Linked DNA regions of Homo sapiens: all the other regions are reported to be linked to region 1. The links are microRNA targets in miRTarBase. Many come from high-throughput screens and were not tested one by one. Region 1 holds a microRNA gene; each other region holds the end of a gene's coding sequence.

Evidence for each region. Region 1 holds the annotated microRNA hsa-miR-6756-3p (UCCCCUUCCUCCCUGCCCAG, at 1,777-1,796, shown strand). A microRNA usually pairs through its seed, bases 2 to 8, with sites in the 3' UTR of a target mRNA and lowers its output. Matches are read on the target gene's strand: a 7mer-m8 pairs with bases 2 to 8, a 7mer-A1 pairs with bases 2 to 7 and ends in A, and an 8mer does both.
Region 2: miRTarBase lists PANK3 as a target of hsa-miR-6756-3p. Seed matches in the 3' UTR shown: 7mer-A1 at 1,690-1,696.
Region 3: miRTarBase lists MMAB as a target of hsa-miR-6756-3p. Seed matches in the 3' UTR shown: 7mer-A1 at 2,115-2,121.
Region 4: miRTarBase lists DMRTB1 as a target of hsa-miR-6756-3p. The part of its 3' UTR that is shown has no 7-base or 8-base seed match.
Region 5: miRTarBase lists KLK2 as a target of hsa-miR-6756-3p. Seed matches in the 3' UTR shown: 8mer at 1,199-1,206.
Region 6: miRTarBase lists TMLHE as a target of hsa-miR-6756-3p. Seed matches in the 3' UTR shown: 8mer at 198-205.

What each region holds. Positions count from the first base shown.
Region 1 is chr11:119,311,425-119,314,745 of GRCh38, reverse strand. MIR6756 (microRNA 6756) reads left to right here and starts at 1,734; the gene lies at 1,734-1,796. MCAM (melanoma cell adhesion molecule) reads left to right here. Exons shown (of 16, transcript NM_006500.3): 4 at 1-67; 5 at 170-257; 6 at 1,797-1,976; 7 at 2,098-2,219; 8 at 2,318-2,480; 9 at 2,576-2,694; 10 at 2,797-2,938; 11 at 3,095-3,216.
Region 2 is chr5:168,554,791-168,558,111 of GRCh38, reverse strand. It overlaps PANK3 (pantothenate kinase 3), which reads left to right. Exons shown (of 7, transcript NM_024594.4): 7 at 491-3,321. The coding sequence ends at 541. Among named protein-coding and RNA genes, the nearest start is that of MIR103B1, 4.5 kb to the left of the region's middle.
Region 3 is chr12:109,554,409-109,557,408 of GRCh38, forward strand. It overlaps MMAB (metabolism of cobalamin associated B), which reads right to left. Exons shown (of 9, transcript NM_052845.4): 9 at 1-2,728. The coding sequence ends at 2,620. Among named protein-coding and RNA genes, the nearest start is that of MMAB, 18 kb to the right of the region's middle.
Region 4 is chr1:53,466,050-53,469,309 of GRCh38, reverse strand. DMRTB1 (DMRT like family B with proline rich C-terminal 1) reads right to left here. Exons shown (of 4, transcript NM_033067.3): 4 at 1,822-2,715. The coding sequence ends at 2,648. Among named protein-coding and RNA genes, the nearest start is that of DMRTB1, 8.3 kb to the right of the region's middle. RefSeq lists an enhancer at 1-146.
Region 5 is chr19:50,877,879-50,881,194 of GRCh38, forward strand. It overlaps KLK2 (kallikrein related peptidase 2), which reads left to right. Exons shown (of 5, transcript NM_005551.5): 5 at 526-2,689. The coding sequence ends at 681. Among named protein-coding and RNA genes, the nearest start is that of KLK2, 6.1 kb to the left of the region's middle.
Region 6 is chrX:155,489,074-155,492,073 of GRCh38, forward strand. It overlaps TMLHE (trimethyllysine hydroxylase, epsilon), which reads right to left. Exons shown (of 8, transcript NM_018196.4): 8 at 1-2,593. The coding sequence ends at 2,462. TMLHE-AS1 (TMLHE antisense RNA 1) reads left to right here. Exons shown (of 4, transcript NR_039991.1): 3 at 219-316. Among named protein-coding and RNA genes, the nearest start is that of TMLHE-AS1, 24 kb to the left of the region's middle.

The DNA of each region.
Region 1 (3,321 bases):
TCCGGAGGAGCCAAACATCCAGGTCAACCCCCTGGGCATCCCTGTGAACAGTAAGGAGCCTGAGGAGGTGAGATGTGTGGCAGGTGGGCTGGGCAGCTGGTGCGCAGCCGCTGAGATGGGGCTTGAAGGGGGCTCGGAGGCAGGGAGACTCACACCCTGTGCTCTTTAGGTCGCTACCTGTGTAGGGAGGAACGGGTACCCCATTCCTCAAGTCATCTGGTACAAGAATGGCCGGCCTCTGAAGGAGGAGAAGAACCGTGAGTAGCCCTTTCTCCCAAAAGCCACCCTTGGGCCAGGTGTGGTAGCTCACACCTGTAATCTCGGTGCTTTGGGAGGCCAAGGCAGGAGGATCTCTGGAGGTGAGGAGTTCAGGACCACCTTGGACAACATAGGGTGACCCTGTCTCTACAGAAAATAAAAAAATTAGCCAGGCATGGTGGTGTGTGCCTGTGGTCCCAGATACTTGGGAGGCTGAGGCAGGAGGATCATATGAGCCCAGGAAATGAAGGCTGCAGTGAGCTAGGATTGCACCACCACACTCCGGCCTGGGTGACAGAGCGAGACCCCATCTCTTAAAAAGAGCTGTCCCTATGGTACTACACAGGAACTGCCTTATATTTTCATTAAGCTTTTAACTTAAAAAAATTATACAAATGGTACTTGAAAATATTTTCATGAGAATTTAAACTGACAAAAAATCTAGAAGTTTCTTCTTGCCTGAGACCCCCCCTCCCAGAAATAATCTCTGCTATCAGGGTGTGTTCTTTCAAGCCTATTTCTATGTATTTGCTCATATATAGAAATATTTCTAGAATGATATAGGCTTCTGTGTTTTATTATCTAAATCAGTCATTCTTAACCAGGGGTGATTTTGTACCCCCTCCTCCTAGGAGATACTTGGCAATGTCTGGAGATATTTTTGGTTGTCACACATAGAGGGGGTGCTACTGCCATCTAGTAGGTAGAGAGACCAAGGATGTTGCTAACATCCTATAGGGCACAGGACAGCCCCCACAATAAAGAATCAACGTGGCCTAAAACATCAGTAGTGCTGGCTGGGCTCACGCCTGTAATCCCAGCACTTTTGGAGGCCAAGGTGGGCGGATCACCTGAGGTCGGGAGTTCAAGACCAGCCTGTCCAACACGGAGAAACCCCATCTCTACTGAAAATACAAAAGTAGCCGGGCGTGGTGGCGCATGTCTGTAATCCCAGCTACTCAGGAGGCTGAGGCAGGAGAATCACTTGAAGCCGGGAGGGAGGTGGAGGTTGCGGTGAGCCGAGATTGTACCACTGCACTCCAGCCTGGGCAACAAGAGTGAAACTCTGTCTGAAAAAAAAAAAAAAAAAATTATCAGTAGTGCTGAGAAACCCTGGTCTAAGTGGTGGTGTATGGTATACATTGTTAGACAATTTCTTTTATACAATGTTTCTGGGTCAGTCTATTTAGATCAACTGATCGTTTTGCTTACTGCCAAGTTTTCCATACTACGCATAGCAGGTAGTCGAGTTCACCATTCCCCATTTAGTGGACATCTAGACGGCTGCTCGTTTTTATCATTGCAGCATTCTTTGCACACATCCTTGGATATGAGCAGACATGAAAATGTTTTTCTAGGGTTGACACTGAGCAGTAAAAGTGCTGGGTTGAAGGGTTTCCAGCTTGCATTTGTACCTGGCCTTCTACAGGGGACAGGGGGCTATTTAGATGGTCCCCTGCCAACCCCAGTGGACAACCCTAGGGTGGGGCTGGAGGTGGGGCTGAGGCTGAGTCTTCCTCCCCTTCCTCCCTGCCCAGGGGTCCACATTCAGTCGTCCCAGACTGTGGAGTCGAGTGGTTTGTACACCTTGCAGAGTATTCTGAAGGCACAGCTGGTTAAAGAAGACAAAGATGCCCAGTTTTACTGTGAGCTCAACTACCGGCTGCCCAGTGGGAACCACATGAAGGAGTCCAGGGAAGTCACCGTCCCTGTTTTCTGTGAGTACTAACCTGACTCTCTGCTTACTGGGGCTGGGGCTGCTGGAAACTCCTGCTGGCTCCCCCTTATCCAGCCCAGGGTTGACTCATGGGCCAAGAGCTACCCCCTTTGCCTATGCAGACCCGACAGAAAAAGTGTGGCTGGAAGTGGAGCCCGTGGGAATGCTGAAGGAAGGGGACCGCGTGGAAATCAGGTGTTTGGCTGATGGCAACCCTCCACCACACTTCAGCATCAGCAAGCAGGTGTGGGGGCTTTGTGCTGGGTGCAGGTGGGGATGCAAGCAGAGACCCAGGTGGAGTGGCGGGAGGTGCACTCTGCTCACCTCCCCAATCCTCCCTAGAACCCCAGCACCAGGGAGGCAGAGGAAGAGACAACCAACGACAACGGGGTCCTGGTGCTGGAGCCTGCCCGGAAGGAACACAGTGGGCGCTATGAATGTCAGGGCCTGGACTTGGACACCATGATATCGCTGCTGAGTGAACCACAGGAACTACTGGTGAACTGTGAGGGGCTGGGGACCCAGGACAGGGGGACCAGGCTGGGGCAATAGGGAACTGGCCCCACCCTGCCCTGGGTGACATGATTGCTGTACCCCCAGATGTGTCTGACGTCCGAGTGAGTCCCGCAGCCCCTGAGAGACAGGAAGGCAGCAGCCTCACCCTGACCTGTGAGGCAGAGAGTAGCCAGGACCTCGAGTTCCAGTGGCTGAGAGAAGAGGTACCCAGGCGGGTCTGGGGCAAGGGGCTGATGGGGTGGGTGGGGCTGGCGGTGACAAGAATGTGCTCTTTCCCAGACCCTCTGACCCATCTCTCATCCCAGACAGGCCAGGTGCTGGAAAGGGGGCCTGTGCTTCAGTTGCATGACCTGAAACGGGAGGCAGGAGGCGGCTATCGCTGCGTGGCGTCTGTGCCCAGCATACCCGGCCTGAACCGCACACAGCTGGTCAACGTGGCCATTTTTGGTGAGGCCCTCCCTCTGGGTAGAGACCAGGTCACCCCAAGTGGGGTGGTTTTTAAGCTCTTTGACAAAAAGCCACCTGCTGCCCTGGGGAGCTCTGGTGCGGAGGGGGAGGCAGGCTAGCTGGGCTTGCCACCTCACCTCTCCCTACCTCCCCAAGGCCCCCCTTGGATGGCATTCAAGGAGAGGAAGGTGTGGGTGAAAGAGAATATGGTGTTGAATCTGTCTTGTGAAGCGTCAGGGCACCCCCGGCCCACCATCTCCTGGAACGTCAACGGCACGGTGAGCGGGTGTCTCATCTGCCACACTCTCCTAATCCCTGCCTGCGCTTTGTGGCCAGGACCAGAGATCCTCCCCATCCCCTGAGCTGCCTCCTTCCTTTCCTCG
Region 2 (3,321 bases), not on the chromosome of region 1:
AATGGTGTGCCCTTGTGCAATTCCACATGGCATGCAGTGAGAGTGTCAGGCACAGCCACAGGAAGTTAGTTTGTTTTATTAAGTAAAGGGGAGAGGGTGCAGAATTGCTGTTACAGTCCTGGAAGCTTTAGTGTCTAAAGGCCACACTTTTAGAATACGTATTTCAGTGTGAGCCTATAGTCCCAGCTATTCAAGAGGCTGAGATGGGAGGACCATGTGAGCCCAGGAATTCAAGGCCAGCCTGGGCAAAATAGTGAGACCATGTCTCTAAAAATAATAATAATAAATAAAAATACATATTTCAAAGGTGTGTAGACATCAAGAATACAGATTCAGAAAATTTTTTATAATAGCTAACAACGCAGAAATTGGTAGGTTTCCAAATATTATTAAACAAATAGATTGTGCATAGTTGTGTGTTCTCAAGTGGTTAATATTATATGCTAACTTAAAAGCTGTACTACATAACAGTTATTTTTAAATTACACAGGGTTACTTTGGAGCAGTTGGTGCACTTCTTGGGCTGCCAAATTTCAGCTAAAGCATCAGGTCTCTCTCTCTGCTAATAAATGTCATCCAAGAGGAACTAAAACCAGAGGCATTATTACTGCATTGTTTGTCACTGGGAACCAAAGGATAAAAGAGTAGCATAAGCTGCTGAATGTTGCCATATTAAAGGAGAGAACTTGGTAACGTGAAGTATTTCTCATTGAAATGCTTTCCCTTTTGTATATAGCCAGTGTTAAATCCTTAAATGCAATACAGCCTCTGATTATTGAGCTTCCTCTTAAAAAGATTTTTTTATTTTATGTAGCCAACATTGCAGTACTGTATGCTCAAACACAAATCTTAAAGTATCGGAACTGTTTAGCTTATGAAAATAATCGACTCTGAATATTTGTTACAAGTCTGTTTTATGTGTTTTGATTACTAGTGAGCAGAAAATAACATACCCTGTATTCAAAATTACTGAAATGGCAATCAAAGATGATCATTTTTATGTGATTTTAGAAATGTTAAGGCAATACTACTAATTATTGTAGGTTTTTTTAACGTATCACCCAAAGCATGTATGTGATCTTTCCCCATTAGTATCTTTTTCTCAAATGCCATAATTAACTGAAATACTATTATTAAATTTTCATGAGAATTCTAAAATGAATCCTGGGAAATGCACGTTTGGTGATGTTGCACTTTCTGTATTTTACAGGAATTAGTCAATACATGTTGAAATGTTTAACATTTTAAGATTGGAGGCTTAATTACTGGGAGTCTGTCTAATGAAGTCCTGGGACTATTGTAATGGAATATGATTTGAGTTCACTGTGCTCTTTTTGTTTGTTTGTTTTGGTCATATATACATTCAGAACTTTTATTTTAAAACAACCACAATAACATTAATAATAGAAAATTCATCTGTAAATATTCACAGTCTAGTCACTGAAAAATGGGAAAACCTCTACCATGCCTTATTATTACCCTTTGCTGTTTGAGGAGCCAGAAATAGAGGTGCAGTTAGAGGACGGTCACTTTTTCCAACAAAACCCACTCCATAGCCATGTGGATTTTTATCCAAAGGCTCAACAACCAGAGGGAATGGTGAGACCTGATAACTAAAATACTGTTATTGGCAAGGGTTTGAAATGTGTAAGAACCTAGGAGGGAAAGGAAGATTGAGCAACATAGGAAAAGGGGAAGAGAGGCTGAGTGTCACCAAGGTCCAAACTCCATTTATAAAAATACTGCAAAACCAGGAGTTGATGGTAGAAATGCATATGATCCATGGCAGGAGTAAATCTCTCCACCTCCTCTAACTCTCTGAAAACTCTAGAGTTGGAGCAAGTCTTCCATTTGCTTCTTATCCCCTTAAAAGAATGCCTTCCACTTCCCAACAGCCCCCATCAAGGGACCCCAAGAGGCCACCATGCTCTTATCTCGCACTTTCTTTCCTATTCCCCTTGCCTGAATCTGGAGTGGGGTTGAGCCCTCTGCCTTCAACCTTAAGATTTAGGAAGTTCTTTCCCCAACTGTCTAACTTGGAAAGGTAGATGAGTCTGAATTTTGAAGTAACGAATGCAAATTCCACTCAGCAGAGGCAATGTTATTTATGTACATAGGGATAGTGGAATGAGTTTTAATAGATTCTGTCCAAAAGGGGTTTGTTCCTCTTATTTCCTCTATGTAGGAAGTTGTGTCTTAGGCAACTTTATCAGTATCAATGGAAAAATGATAGGCACTACAATGAAATGGCAGGATGCCAATATGAGATATTTCAGGAATAATAAGAAATACAGTTTGTTTGTATAAAATAAACTATCTCAAGAAAGTTTTCAACGACAGTGATAGTGTTCATTTGTAAGAGAGAGTTCTAGAACTTCGATGTCCAGTGCAGTAGCCACTACCCATATGTAGCTGTTGAGCATTTGAAATATGGTTAGTCCAAATTGAGATGTGCTCTAAAGGACAATAAAAGGTTAAATATCTCCTAATTTTTTGTATTGATTACATGTTGAAATGTTAACATTGGAAATATTGGGTTAAAGAAAAATACACAATTAAAATGAATCTTGGCCAGGCGCAGTGGCTCACGCCTCTAATCCCAGCACTTTGAGAGGCCAGGGTGGGCAGGTCACCTGAGGTCAGGAGTTCGAGACCAGCCTGGCCAGTGTGGCAAAACCCTGCCTACTAAAAATACAAAAATTAGCCAGGCATGGTGGTGCGCACCTGTAGTCCCAGCTACTTGGGAGGCTGAGGCAGGAGAATTGCTTGAACCCAGGAGGAGGAGGCTGCAGTGAGCTGAGATTGTGCCACTGCACTCCAGCCTGGGCGACAGAGTGAGACTCTGTCTCAAAAAAAAGAATCATCTGTTTCCAATTATTTTTAAATGTGCTTACTAGAAAAGATAAAATCACACATGGTTTACATTTTATTTCTATTAAGACAGCACCGTTAAGAACATAGAGCTTTGAGGAATTGTGGTATTAGAACCAAATCTATTTACCACAGTGAGCTTACAGGGAGTTACTCGAGATCTTAATAAAAAATTATAATCTTTGGCAGCCTTCATTATGATTTTGTGTTCTTATTATTCCAGTACCTCTAGATTACATATGGGAAAAGCTAAAGAGCCACAGTGGTGAGATGGTTGCTCACTCTAGCAGGTAATTTCAGTTTGAAAGGATAAAATATATGAATCATAGTTCACATTAACCAAAGTACAGTGATGAAATAACTTAGACTCTGACCATTCCATTTTTTCTTAAAGATTGCCCTAAATCTATAGATGCTAATACAGTATTTGCCACAGGTATAAAACTTGTA
Region 3 (3,000 bases), not on the chromosome of region 1:
TTTTCATGGGTGCAAAATGTAAGGAAGTGCCCACAAACTCAGGGATCGAGTAGTATTTGTGTGCAATATTTTCCAAAATCAAATTATGAAAAAAATCTACGATAAGCAAGGGATCACGACTTTAAATAAAAACAGGCTGCTGTTTGTTTCAAAACCCCGTGTTCCCGTGCAATGGGACTGATTGTTTCTGAGAGTTGCCAGTGGTGTGCAAACACTGGGGCAGCGGGGGCTTCGCAGTCACATTTCCTGACTGTAGGGCTTTCATTAACTTTTCCCACCTGGTTCAAAATATGGGAGGACATTTGCTCAGTGTACAGAGGGGTACACATCTTTTCTTTTGCCTCGGGCTCTTGATAGAGCTTTTGAAAGGCACTGCAGAAGAGCAAATGTTTTAAACACCCCATCCTTCCAGCCCCCAAAGCAAGCTTTCTCCATTTTTCCCAGGTTGGTAGCACAGGAGAGAAACACCTGCTGAGTGGTGGCATCTGCCCTGCACCCAGGTGGTTTCTCAGAGAAGTGTTTGCTGGTGAACCGGGAGACAGATACAGAGGCGGGGGTCTGAGAACGCGACTGTTAACATCCAGGCTGTGACACCCGGTCCTGGAAGGACAGGACTTGGCAACAGGTGAACGGCCTTGTTTCAAAGATTGTCACTTTAGGATGTTGTATTTACTCAAAAAGCTTTCCTTATCCTTTGGAGGCTGTGCTTTCCCATGGCTAGGCATGCAGGGCTGCTGTGTTATTTTATATATATATATATATTCCAGGAAGATTTTGAGATTTTGAGGTGTAGACAGAATTGAGTGATTCGCTGCAAGCTCTTTGAACATACTCCCTGACCGAGCCTTAGTGATTGCGTTTTCAGGGTTTTTTTTTTTTTTTTTTTTTTTTTGTGACGGAGTCTCACTCTATCAGCCAGGCTGGAGTGTCGTGTCACGATCTTGGCTCACTGCAGCCTCTGCCTCGTAGGTTCAAGTGATTCTCCTGCCTCAGCCTCCTGAATAGCTGGGATTACAGGCACCCGCCACCATGCCCAGCTAATTTTTTTTTTTTTTTTTTTTTTTTAGCAGAAATGGGGTTTTACCATGTTGACCAGGCTGGTCTCAAACTCCTGACCTCAGGTGATCTGCCTGCCTCGGCCTCCCAAAGTCCGTTTTCAGCTCTGTTTTGCAAACACTGAGCACCGACTCCGTACCAGACCTGGTAGTGACGATGGGGGCAGGGAGGCACGGAACAAAGCCACCTCCTGGAAGGCATTCACACACTCCTGGTCATCTGCACCTCACCCACCCTGCCCAAGGCTCAAGAGGGCCATCACAGCCTGTCAGCAATGAAAGGACCCAGAAGACACAAGTGAATATACCTGGCCCTCCTGCAAACTTTGCAGGCCAGGTGGTAAGAATGAAGGCAAAAATATGCACGTGACTAAGAAGGTAATGTTTGCTGACTTGCCAGCAAGAAAGATGGCCGGAAAGACCAGCTGTCCCGAGCCTAGCGCGGTGGCCCATGCTAAGCAGCCACTCAGTCAATATGTGATGGCTGAATGGAGTTCGCCAGGCATTTCAGCCCTGAAACTGGACAAGAGCCTGCCCTTCCAAAGTCATTTCCTGCAATTAGCAGCCTGCAGTCTTTAGGTTCTTGGGGCTGCCTCTTCTGCCCTTCATAAATATTGCCTTTCCCAAGGACACTGCTGGCACTGGCAGTGTCGTTTCATAGCAGGAGGGAGCAGCAGTGACAACTGAAATAAATACAGCCGTGGCACCGATCTCAGAGGCATAAGCCAGCCAAGTGCAACATCGGAGAAATCAGTCTGGTGGATGTCAGCCTTGCTGGAAACTGACAACCTCATTTTCTCAAGCTGAAGATGCTGCACCGCAGACCCTTGACTCAGTCCAACCAGACAGGGAATGTTCACCTTCAAGTGGTAGTGTTGTTCTCATCAGCATCTCCATCCCTTTCAGAGGGGGTCCTCTAAGCTGCACCCCCATCACACACACTTCAATCTAAGCCAGGAGTTTCTGAGCCTCGCCTGTCAATCTGCAGCTATCCTTCCCCCACACTTTGGCGGTGATGGGTGGCTCAGAGGTGACTAAACTTCCAAATCTTGTCCGCCTTCCCCTTTACAAATGTGACATTTAAAGCACCTTTGGCACAGGTAAATCACAATTACATTTTCAAGGGCCTCTGGTCCCATTCCAAATCTGTGAACAACCTGAGCTGGCAGTGGGAGGGCTCTCTCTCACACACACACACACACACACACACACACACACACACACACACACGGCTCCAGCCTTTCCAACTTTTATTCCTTTTCCGCACAGCTCCTTCTCATTGCAGCAATCACTTTACCTGTCTTTCCTGCAATGCCAATTCATTCCCACATCCCTCCAAGACCCAGGAGAGCTTGGGGAAGCAGGGTCAGGGACAGAATCCCCAAAGGGTCACAGTCCCTTGAGGAAGGTGGCAAGAGGTGTAGATCAAAGCTGAGCTGGGACAAAAGGCTGCTTTGAGCCTCTCTGGGTGAGCTCTTCAGGAACCAGGACCCCAGAAGGGCAAGCTCCTCTCTCCACGGCCATCGCCATGGAGGGATCCTCCAAGCTCCCACTTTCTGTGATTTCAGAGTCCCTCAGACTCGGCCGATGGGTCATTTTTCATGTATATTTTCTCTTGATTCCCCTCCTTCATGGCTGCATATCTGGCTAGCGTGAAGAGATAGTCACTGAGTCTGGAGGGGCAGAGAGAGAGAAGCAAACAGAATGGTTTGAAATGAGAGATCAACGCTAACTGGGTCTTCCCATATCCGCCTACAAGGAGGAGATATAAATGACGCACTCTGGGCACATTGTGCAGGGAGGGCGGGGGCCCAGCCATCTTGCACTTAATGGATGGCACACGAGGCCAGCTGCTGTGAATGCCAAGGACTCTACTCCAGTGTCAAGGCTGGGGCCATTCCTGCAGGATGAGGCCATTGCCCCGGCCCTACCCCATGGGGCAGAT
Region 4 (3,260 bases), not on the chromosome of region 1:
TCTCCAAAGACCAAAGCCTCCTATCTCCCCACAGGCTAACTAAACAACCCATTTCCTTGCATTGGTCTGGAATAGTTGTGGTGTCCATGTGGCCACAGAGACTGTTTCATACTTCTGCGTGTGTGCTGACCAGAAACAGGAAAGCAGCTTTATTTGAGTAGTGCAACTTGGTTGGAAAATCTTTCAAAATGTGGAGTCTAAGATAAAACTTCAAGTGTTATGAAAAAGTAAGGTTACCAGCCAGGTGCGGTGGCTCACGCCTGTAATCCCAACACTTTCGGAGGCCGAGGCGGGCAGATCACAAGGTCAAGAGATCGAGACCATCCTGGCTAACATGGTGAAACCCTGTCTCTACTAAAAATACAAAAAAATAAATAAATAAAATAAAAATTAGCCGGACGTGGTGGTGGGCGCCTATAGTCCCAGCTACTCAGGAGGCTGAAGCAGGAGAATGGCGTGAATCCGGGAGGCGGAGCTTGCAGTGAGCCGAGATCGCACCACTGCACTCCAGCCTGGGCGACAGGGCGAGACTCCGTCTCAAAAAAAAAAAAGAAAAAAAGAAAAAGAAAAAGTAAGGTTACCAATCCAGCCCCACCCTGCTGTACTGGCAGGTCAGGGGTTCAGTTAGGGCATGGTGATTGATGTCAAGTGCAACCAAAAGGCATGTCTTCTCCCACCCTCTCAGGGTCCTGCAGCACTGTGGTCCCCAAGGGGAAGACCAGCACTGGGGTAAGTGATAGCTTCAGCCCCCAAGCCAGGGTAGTCCCAAATCACCGCATCATCCTGTCCAGGCTGACACCAGTGCTGACCTGCAGACCTCAGGCCTCAGCATGCGTGGTCTGCCCTGCTGAAAACACTCTTATGTCTGTATAGCAGTAACTGAAAAGTTCTTGTGACAGTGCCTGCCTCCAGTGCCTTCCAACAAAGCCCAGGCCCTAGGCCCCAGCCACCACACTGACGTAAGAGAATAGTTAGGGTATCACTTCTCAATGATCCCCCCACTACCTATCCCAGGACTTAGGAGGATGCCTGGACACCTCTGCCCACAGGCAAAAAAGGAAGTAAAGTTGACCTGTTCTCTTGGGTGCCAGCCCTTCCCTGGACAGAGAACAGGACACTGCCCTGACCATGGAATCCTTCACACCAGGTCCCCATCCTCCTCTGCATCCTTACTGGGAGTACTCATCTCTTTCTTCTCTGCCTAACTCATTATTGCCCCTTATGTTGTGGTTGAGGCCCTGACTCCTGCAGAAGGCTTTCTCTGACCACTCCCACAGCCTCCCTACCTCTCTGTTCTAGTATGAATCCCCTAAGACTCTCTGTCTCTCCCACTAGATGTCATGTTCCTCATGGGCAGAGCTGGGAACTGTCAAGTTCTGAATCTAGTAGAAACACAGGATGTTTTCTAAATGAAGGTATAAATGCAACCAATGGAAGAAGCCGAGGACCCTAAAACAGAATTGGTTCAAGTTCTGTTTTTTTAAATGCATGTTCCTATGCAGGGACTATGGAAGGAGCTGGAGGAAGGAAACTAAGACATCTTTACATTTTGTGTGTCTACATCAGATTTCCTTAAAAGGTCTCCATTGCTTAAAATAACAACAGTAATAATAAAGAAGTCTACTAGCCTGGCCCAATCCCCTCACTTGATAAAGAAAGGGGAGGTAGAACAGGGAGGGCAGGAACTAAAAATAGGAACTAAGCAAGTGCAGACAAGGCCAGCCACAGGCCACAAACCAAGGCCCCCAATCTCCCCAACTCAGGCTCCTGCCAACCCTACCTTCCACCAGGATCAAAGGGAGAATAAGCCTTCCACAAGGATTTCCATTGCTCATTTTATTTCAATAGCCAACTGTCCTCACAGAAGAAACTGTTCATGTCACAGGTGATCAGAAGCACCATTCTATTCCCTAGGGACTGCATCAGTGCTTATGAACAGCCTACTTTTTAAAGTTGGCAATCACTATAAAAACATCAAATAGTCAAACTAATAAATTTTTTAAAACCAGTGCCCATAATGGCTGAAACTTTATGGAGGGGGAATGAAGTAGCCCCAGCAGCCAGGATGCTTGCTAGTAAAACCCCTTAGAGGAGGGGCAAGGGGCTGTGGCCAGGAAGATGTGGGGGACAGAGCAGCAAGGCAGGATGCTGCAGAACCTGCTGTCAACGACCCTGGTCCTGGCTGCTGGCTCCAGCCACCTGGATGAACTGGAATCTTGATGTCTGTGGTGCCCCCAGCAACCTGGAGGACCAGGCAAAGGCAGCAGAAGGCTGAAATAGATGGTGCCTCCTGTCCTAGAGTGGGGCCTGAGGAAATCAAATACTGCCTCTGGGGCTTGTTCCAATAAATGGTAGTGTAACCCAAGGACAGTTAAATTCATTCCTAAATGGGAGCTTCTCCCAGCGCCCACTCCTCAGAGCCCTGGCCCTCCCCTGGTAATAGCTTCCTCCACACTCTTCTTCAACTGTACAGCGCAGGATTGAAACTTAGAAATTGCTCTCCTTCCTCCTATCTTAAACTGGGAATCAGTTGCCATCTATGCTATCAACCTCCTTCCTCCCTACATATCACTGAATGAAGACAAGAAAACTGTTGCTGTTGCCCCCCAGTGCCCCACTCTGCTGGCCAGGAGGGCGGGCCTGGGGCCTAGTCGGACTGCTCCTGAGACGATGGCTGGCTGGGCTCACCCGACAGTACCTCTGCATCCTGGTCATCTGTGAAGGACAAAGAAGGTAGCTGGATTTAGAAAGAGCGAAAATTACAACTACCTATTTGCAGATGAAGATTTTCTTTTTTCTTATTTTATTTTAATTTTTTTGAGACAGAGTCTCGCTCTGTCACCCAGGCTGGAGTGCAGTGGTGTAATCTCAGCTCACCGCAACCTCCACCTCCCAGGTTCAAGCAATTCTCCTGCCTCGGCCTCCTGAGTAGCTGGGATTACAGGCACCCGCCAACATGCCCAGTTAATTTTTGTATTTTTAGTAGAGACAGGGTTGCCCCATGTTGGCCAGGCTGGTCTTGAACTCCTGACCTCAGGTGATCCACCCACCTCACCCTCCCCAAAGTGCTGGGATCACAGGTGTGAGTCACTGTGCCCAGCCCAGATACAGATTTTCCATAAGCCTTTCTCATCATTCCCAGCCCTAGGGGAGAATGTATTTTCTTTAACTTGTTAGGCGCCAGGAGCCTGGAATCCTAGCCTTGGCCATGTGATTCAGATTCAAGTTCCAGCTCTTGCTCTGCTCGTCACAAGCTGGGA
Region 5 (3,316 bases), not on the chromosome of region 1:
GGGCCCTCACCCAGCCTCCCTCACAGTCTCCTGGCCCTCAGTCTCTCCCCTCCACTCCATCCTCCATCTGGCCTCAGTGGGTCATTCTGATCACTGAACTGACCATACCCAGCCCTGCCCACGGCCCTCCATGGCTCCCCAATGCCCTGGAGAGGGGACATCTAGTCAGAGAGTAGTCCTGAAGAGGTGGCCTCTGCGATGTGCCTGTGGGGGCAGCATCCTGCAGATGGTCCCGGCCCTCATCCTGCTGACCTGTCTGCAGGGACTGTCCTCCTGGACCTTGCCCCTTGTGCAGGAGCTGGACCCTGAAGTCCCCTCCCCATAGGCCAAGACTGGAGCCTTGTTCCCTCTGTTGGACTCCCTGCCCATATTCTTGTGGGAGTGGGTTCTGGAGACATTTCTGTCTGTTCCTGAGAGCTGGGAATTGCTCTCAGTCATCTGCCTGCGCGGTTCTGAGAGATGGAGTTGCCTAGGCAGTTATTGGGGCCAATCTTTCTCACTGTGTCTCTCCTCCTTTACCCTTAGGGTGATTCTGGGGGTCCACTTGTCTGTAATGGTGTGCTTCAAGGTATCACATCATGGGGCCCTGAGCCATGTGCCCTGCCTGAAAAGCCTGCTGTGTACACCAAGGTGGTGCATTACCGGAAGTGGATCAAGGACACCATCGCAGCCAACCCCTGAGTGCCCCTGTCCCACCCCTACCTCTAGTAAATTTAAGTCCACCTCACGTTCTGGCATCACTTGGCCTTTCTGGATGCTGGACACCTGAAGCTTGGAACTCACCTGGCCGAAGCTCGAGCCTCCTGAGTCCTACTGACCTGTGCTTTCTGGTGTGGAGTCCAGGGCTGCTAGGAAAAGGAATGGGCAGACACAGGTGTATGCCAATGTTTCTGAAATGGGTATAATTTCGTCCTCTCCTTCGGAACACTGGCTGTCTCTGAAGACTTCTCGCTCAGTTTCAGTGAGGACACACACAAAGACGTGGGTGACCATGTTGTTTGTGGGGTGCAGAGATGGGAGGGGTGGGGCCCACCCTGGAAGAGTGGACAGTGACACAAGGTGGACACTCTCTACAGATCACTGAGGATAAGCTGGAGCCACAATGCATGAGGCACACACACAGCAAGGATGACGCTGTAAACATAGCCCACGCTGTCCTGGGGGCACTGGGAAGCCTAGATAAGGCCGTGAGCAGAAAGAAGGGGAGGATCCTCCTATGTTGTTGAAGGAGGGACTAGGGGGAGAAACTGAAAGCTGATTAATTACAGGAGGTTTGTTCAGGTCCCCCAAACCACCGTCAGATTTGATGATTTCCTAGCAGGACTTACAGAAATAAAGAGCTATCATGCTGTGGTTTATTATGGTTTGTTACATTGATAGGATACATACTGAAATCAGCAAACAAAACAGATGTATAGATTAGAGTGTGGAGAAAACAGAGGAAAACTTGCAGTTACGAAGACTGGCAACTTGGCTTTACTAAGTTTTCAGACTGGCAGGAAGTCAAACCTATTAGGCTGAGGACCTTGTGGAGTGTAGCTGATCCAGCTGATAGAGGAACTAGCCAGGTGGGGGCCTTTCCCTTTGGATGGGGGGCATATCTGACAGTTATTCTCTCCAAGTGGAGACTTACGGACAGCATATAATTCTCCCTGCAAGGATGTATGATAATATGTACAAAGTAATTCCAACTGAGGAAGCTCACCTGATCCTTAGTGTCCAGGGTTTTTACTGGGGGTCTGTAGGACGAGTATGGAGTACTTGAATAATTGACCTGAAGTCCTCAGACCTGAGGTTCCCTAGAGTTCAAACAGATACAGCATGGTCCAGAGTCCCAGATGTACAAAAACAGGGATTCATCACAAATCCCATCTTTAGCATGAAGGGTCTGGCATGGCCCAAGGCCCCAAGTATATCAAGGCACTTGGGCAGAACATGCCAAGGAATCAAATGTCATCTCCCAGGAGTTATTCAAGGGTGAGCCCTTTACTTGGGATGTACAGGCTTTGAGCAGTGCAGGGCTGCTGAGTCAACCTTTTATTGTACAGGGGATGAGGGAAAGGGAGAGGATGAGGAAGCCCCCCTGGGGATTTGGTTTGGTCTTGTGATCAGGTGGTCTATGGGGCTATCCCTACAAAGAAGAATCCAGAAATAGGGGCACATTGAGGAATGATACTGAGCCCAAAGAGCATTCAATCATTGTTTTATTTGCCTTCTTTTCACACCATTGGTGAGGGAGGGATTACCACCCTGGGGTTATGAAGATGGTTGAACACCCCACACATAGCACCGGAGATATGAGATCAACAGTTTCTTAGCCATAGAGATTCACAGCCCAGAGCAGGAGGACGCTGCACACCATGCAGGATGACATGGGGGATGCGCTCGGGATTGGTGTGAAGAAGCAAGGACTGTTAGAGGCAGGCTTTATAGTAACAAGACGGTGGGGCAAACTCTGATTTCCGTGGGGGAATGTCATGGTCTTGCTTTACTAAGTTTTGAGACTGGCAGGTAGTGAAACTCATTAGGCTGAGAACCTTGTGGAATGCAGCTGACCCAGCTGATAGAGGAAGTAGCCAGGTGGGAGCCTTTCCCAGTGGGTGTGGGACATATCTGGCAAGATTTTGTGGCACTCCTGGTTACAGATACTGGGGCAGCAAATAAAACTGAATCTTGTTTTCAGACCTTATACTGTGTAATTGTAAGTGGACATTTAGTAATGTACAGGGGGTCAGGGAAAGACGGGGGATAGTGAATGCACCTGTGGGACTGGTTTGGTTTTGTGATTGAGTAACCCATGGAGTTATCTCTGCAATGATGAATTGTTTGAAAGAAACCTGATTGATTTTATACTGAATTAGAAGTTAATAAGCATGCTGAAAAATAAGAGAACATATTAGGAATATTGAGCAAGACTAACATACATAAAATATGAGAAAAAGGTAGGAAATATTAGGTGGGAAAAATATGATAATTGGAAAAAGTAAAAAAAATGGATTAATAGAATTGAGTAGAGGTGAAGAACGCAATAGTGACATTTTAGACTAGATTGAAGAAAAATGTCAAAGAAATACTGAATGATGTGAGTGCTGGCAGTGCAGATACTGAACACTAAAGACTCAGGAAGAGAGAAAAATAGGAAAGGAGGAAACACATGACTAAACACTGAAGGCAGGTTTTTTTTTTTTTTTTTTTTTTCGCAGAGTTTCACTCTTATCGCCCAGGCTGGAGTGCAATGGCTCAGTCTCGGCTCACTGCAACCCCTGCCTCCCAGTTCAAGTGATTCTCCTGCTTCAGCCTCCCCAGTAGCTGGGAT
Region 6 (3,000 bases), not on the chromosome of region 1:
ATAAGGCACTGTGTTAGGTGCTGTGTTCCTGACCCTACAGATCCCATTCCACCATAGCAAAAGGTAAAAGTGACTCTACAGTGAGCTTGGTAGACATAGACCCATGCTTATATACTCAGGGACACCTGGAAGAGATATAAAAACAGAAACATCTCACATAGGAAGTTTTCAATGCATCGTGATCAGGACTCAAATAATCCCCTTCTCTTTTTCTTCAGTGTACTAAAGGGAGCACATTGTTGAGAAGGACCGGTTGCAAATTTCCAAAAAGGAGAGTAAAATAATTAATGAGTCAAGGTCTCAGGAGAGACAGAAGGTAAGGGGAGTCCTTCAGTAAGTGGGGAAATTGATTTGTTTTGTGTCCTCATCTCTCCAGGGCCATGAGCATGTCCTTTGCTGGCCATAAGTCAATGCTGATGACCTCAGTTATAGTGTAATCTTCAAGGCTAATTTACGCAAAACTTCAGAAATGGTAAACATCCTCATGAAGACTAATGATGACATATTTTAGGAGTGCATAATAGTAGGTATAGAGAAAAAACTGCAGGGTAAAATGTTATTGCTGTTCTTATTGCTAAAGGGCATACTCCTTAAGAACCAAAGTTAATTATCAGTCCTTTGACCTAAGAGGAAAACAAATTTCAGGGACTCCCCTAAAGATTCCTATGTAGTACAAATAAAATGCCAAAATATTTTGGAACACATTTTGGAGCACTGGATAGGTCAATAAAATAATGTGTAAATTGCCAAATGTGATCTAGGAACTCCCTGCAAACATCAGATTAGGCTCTATTCTCTATCTGAATACTGACTTTGCTTTGCTTTGTAACTCCTATCTTCACTAATAATGCCTTTTCCCCCCTCTTGTGTGCATCCTAGCCTATATTCTCTTTCATCATTCTACAGTGGTCAATGTGGTTATTGTACAGCTTCACTTTCAATGAAAGCTGAGGGAAAAGAAGCCTCATACCCTGCCCCCCACCCGCCCCCGCCAATACGTAAAAGAAGCCATTTAAAAAATAAAAGCAGCAAGCTACTAAATTTGACTCATTCAAATCTTGGCAATTAGCATGTATAGTATGTTATGAGAGAGAGAGAGAGAAAATTAGCAGAAATGGAGGAAAACATATTACATCCTAAATACCACCAAATTGCCAAAATACACATTTGGGTAGTAATCTCCAGAGAACTCTCTGGAGGCACAGCATCTATCATGCTGATTTCCCTGAACAATATTACAGAATAGCCCTGTGTACTTTCTCTTGGGGGGGGAGGTGTAAAGAATTATCATATGGAACCTCACAAGTCTCTAAAACCTTTCTGCAATTATCCCTCATAGGATTACCACACTGATGAGTTTGTTCAACAGGCGCTGTTGTGACTTCCTAATTTAACTCCTATAGAGATGATTTGTGTGGAAGATAAAACACTATATTTGAACTCAATTCCCACCTTATCCCTGAGCTTATGCTACCAAGCAATTCTTACAATGTTTGGAGTTCTATTAGACTACAGAGAAGAATCTAGGGTTTCAGCTAAACCCTTTAATCCACAGGCCTAGGTAAAGGACTGTCTCAAGGTAGTCGCTAGCCCATGGGTTCTCAAAGTATGGTCTGAAGACCCCTGGAGGAGTCCCTGAGACCCTTTTCGTGGGTCTGCAGATTAAAAATTATTTTGTATAATAACACCAAGATGAGTTACATTCAATTAGGCATTTTTCTTTTGAAATTAAGCAGACTTTTGGAAACTAAGATGTGCATAGCCCTGTAGTAGGCTAAGTGGAAGTTACAAAGGCAGTAGTAGCTTTTTTTCCCCCTCTCGTTATCTCATGAGGATACAGAGGACTTTTCCAGAGGCTACATGACATATGGTTATGTCATCTCTCTCATAGCTGAGGGATGTGTGCTTCTGTGTTCTTCTTGAGCTTTAAATATTTCTCAGTCTTAATACCTAAAATAATTAGTATCAATAGATAGAACCCACACCCAAGAACTCCTTGGGGCCTTCAATAACTTTTAAGAGTGTTAAGGTGTCCTAAGACCAAACATTTTGCAAATTGTTGCTTTATCAGGATTTTTGTTATTTCTAGAATGCATTTCTTTCTAACTGATCTACTTGGGAAAAAAATCGTTACCTCATGGCAATTATTGCTTTCCTATCAATATGGAGATTATATTTCTGAAGGAGACTGACCAAAATTATATTAAAAGGTTTAAATCAAACAAGTGGATCCATGTTATAACATGAGGAAGAGAGCTGCCCCACTAGATGTCTGACATTAGATAACTCAGAGTCCCGCCTCTCCAACAAGTCTCCCTTACTAGAGAAACGGACAGATTCTGTTTTGTGGGATGGGATAAGGAGACAATCTGAAGTAGAGTTTGACACAATATTATTCTGCCCATATGAAATTCTGGTAGCCAGGGTGCCAGGTGTATTCATAATCCAGATGCTGTCAATTTTAAGCCTGAAGCCCCAAGAGGCGAGCAGTGTTTAATACATCATCTCTTGTTAAATAGCAGCCACACAGTTGGCGGTAGCCAGTGAAGCATTCCCTGCCATGTAGGACACGCCAGTTGTCTATAAATAGGACCTGTGAATGGGCCAAAAAAAAAAAAAAAAGAGAGAGAAAACACTGTCAGAAGAAGGACAGACCAAAGGAACCCTAAGTCAGAAGAGATCATTTAAAAGATAACCTTTAGGTTGTTTTCTGGTTGCATTAAATGAGATATTTTTCTTTTGAAATTAAACAAACTTTTGGAAACTAAGATGTGTATAGCCCTGTAGTAGGCTAAATGGAAGTTACAGAGGCAACAGTAGGTAATGGGCCCTGCACTGGAGGAGCTTCTGTTTCTCAAGTAATTGTTCTCTTATCAAAGTAAATCAGATAATTGGTTTGTTTCTTTTTCTTTTTCTTTAATTCTTATTCTACCCTTTCTCAAAGGGTTAAATTATCTCATGACATTTTATGCTAAGCTGAAGGTATTTTTCATCCAGAGG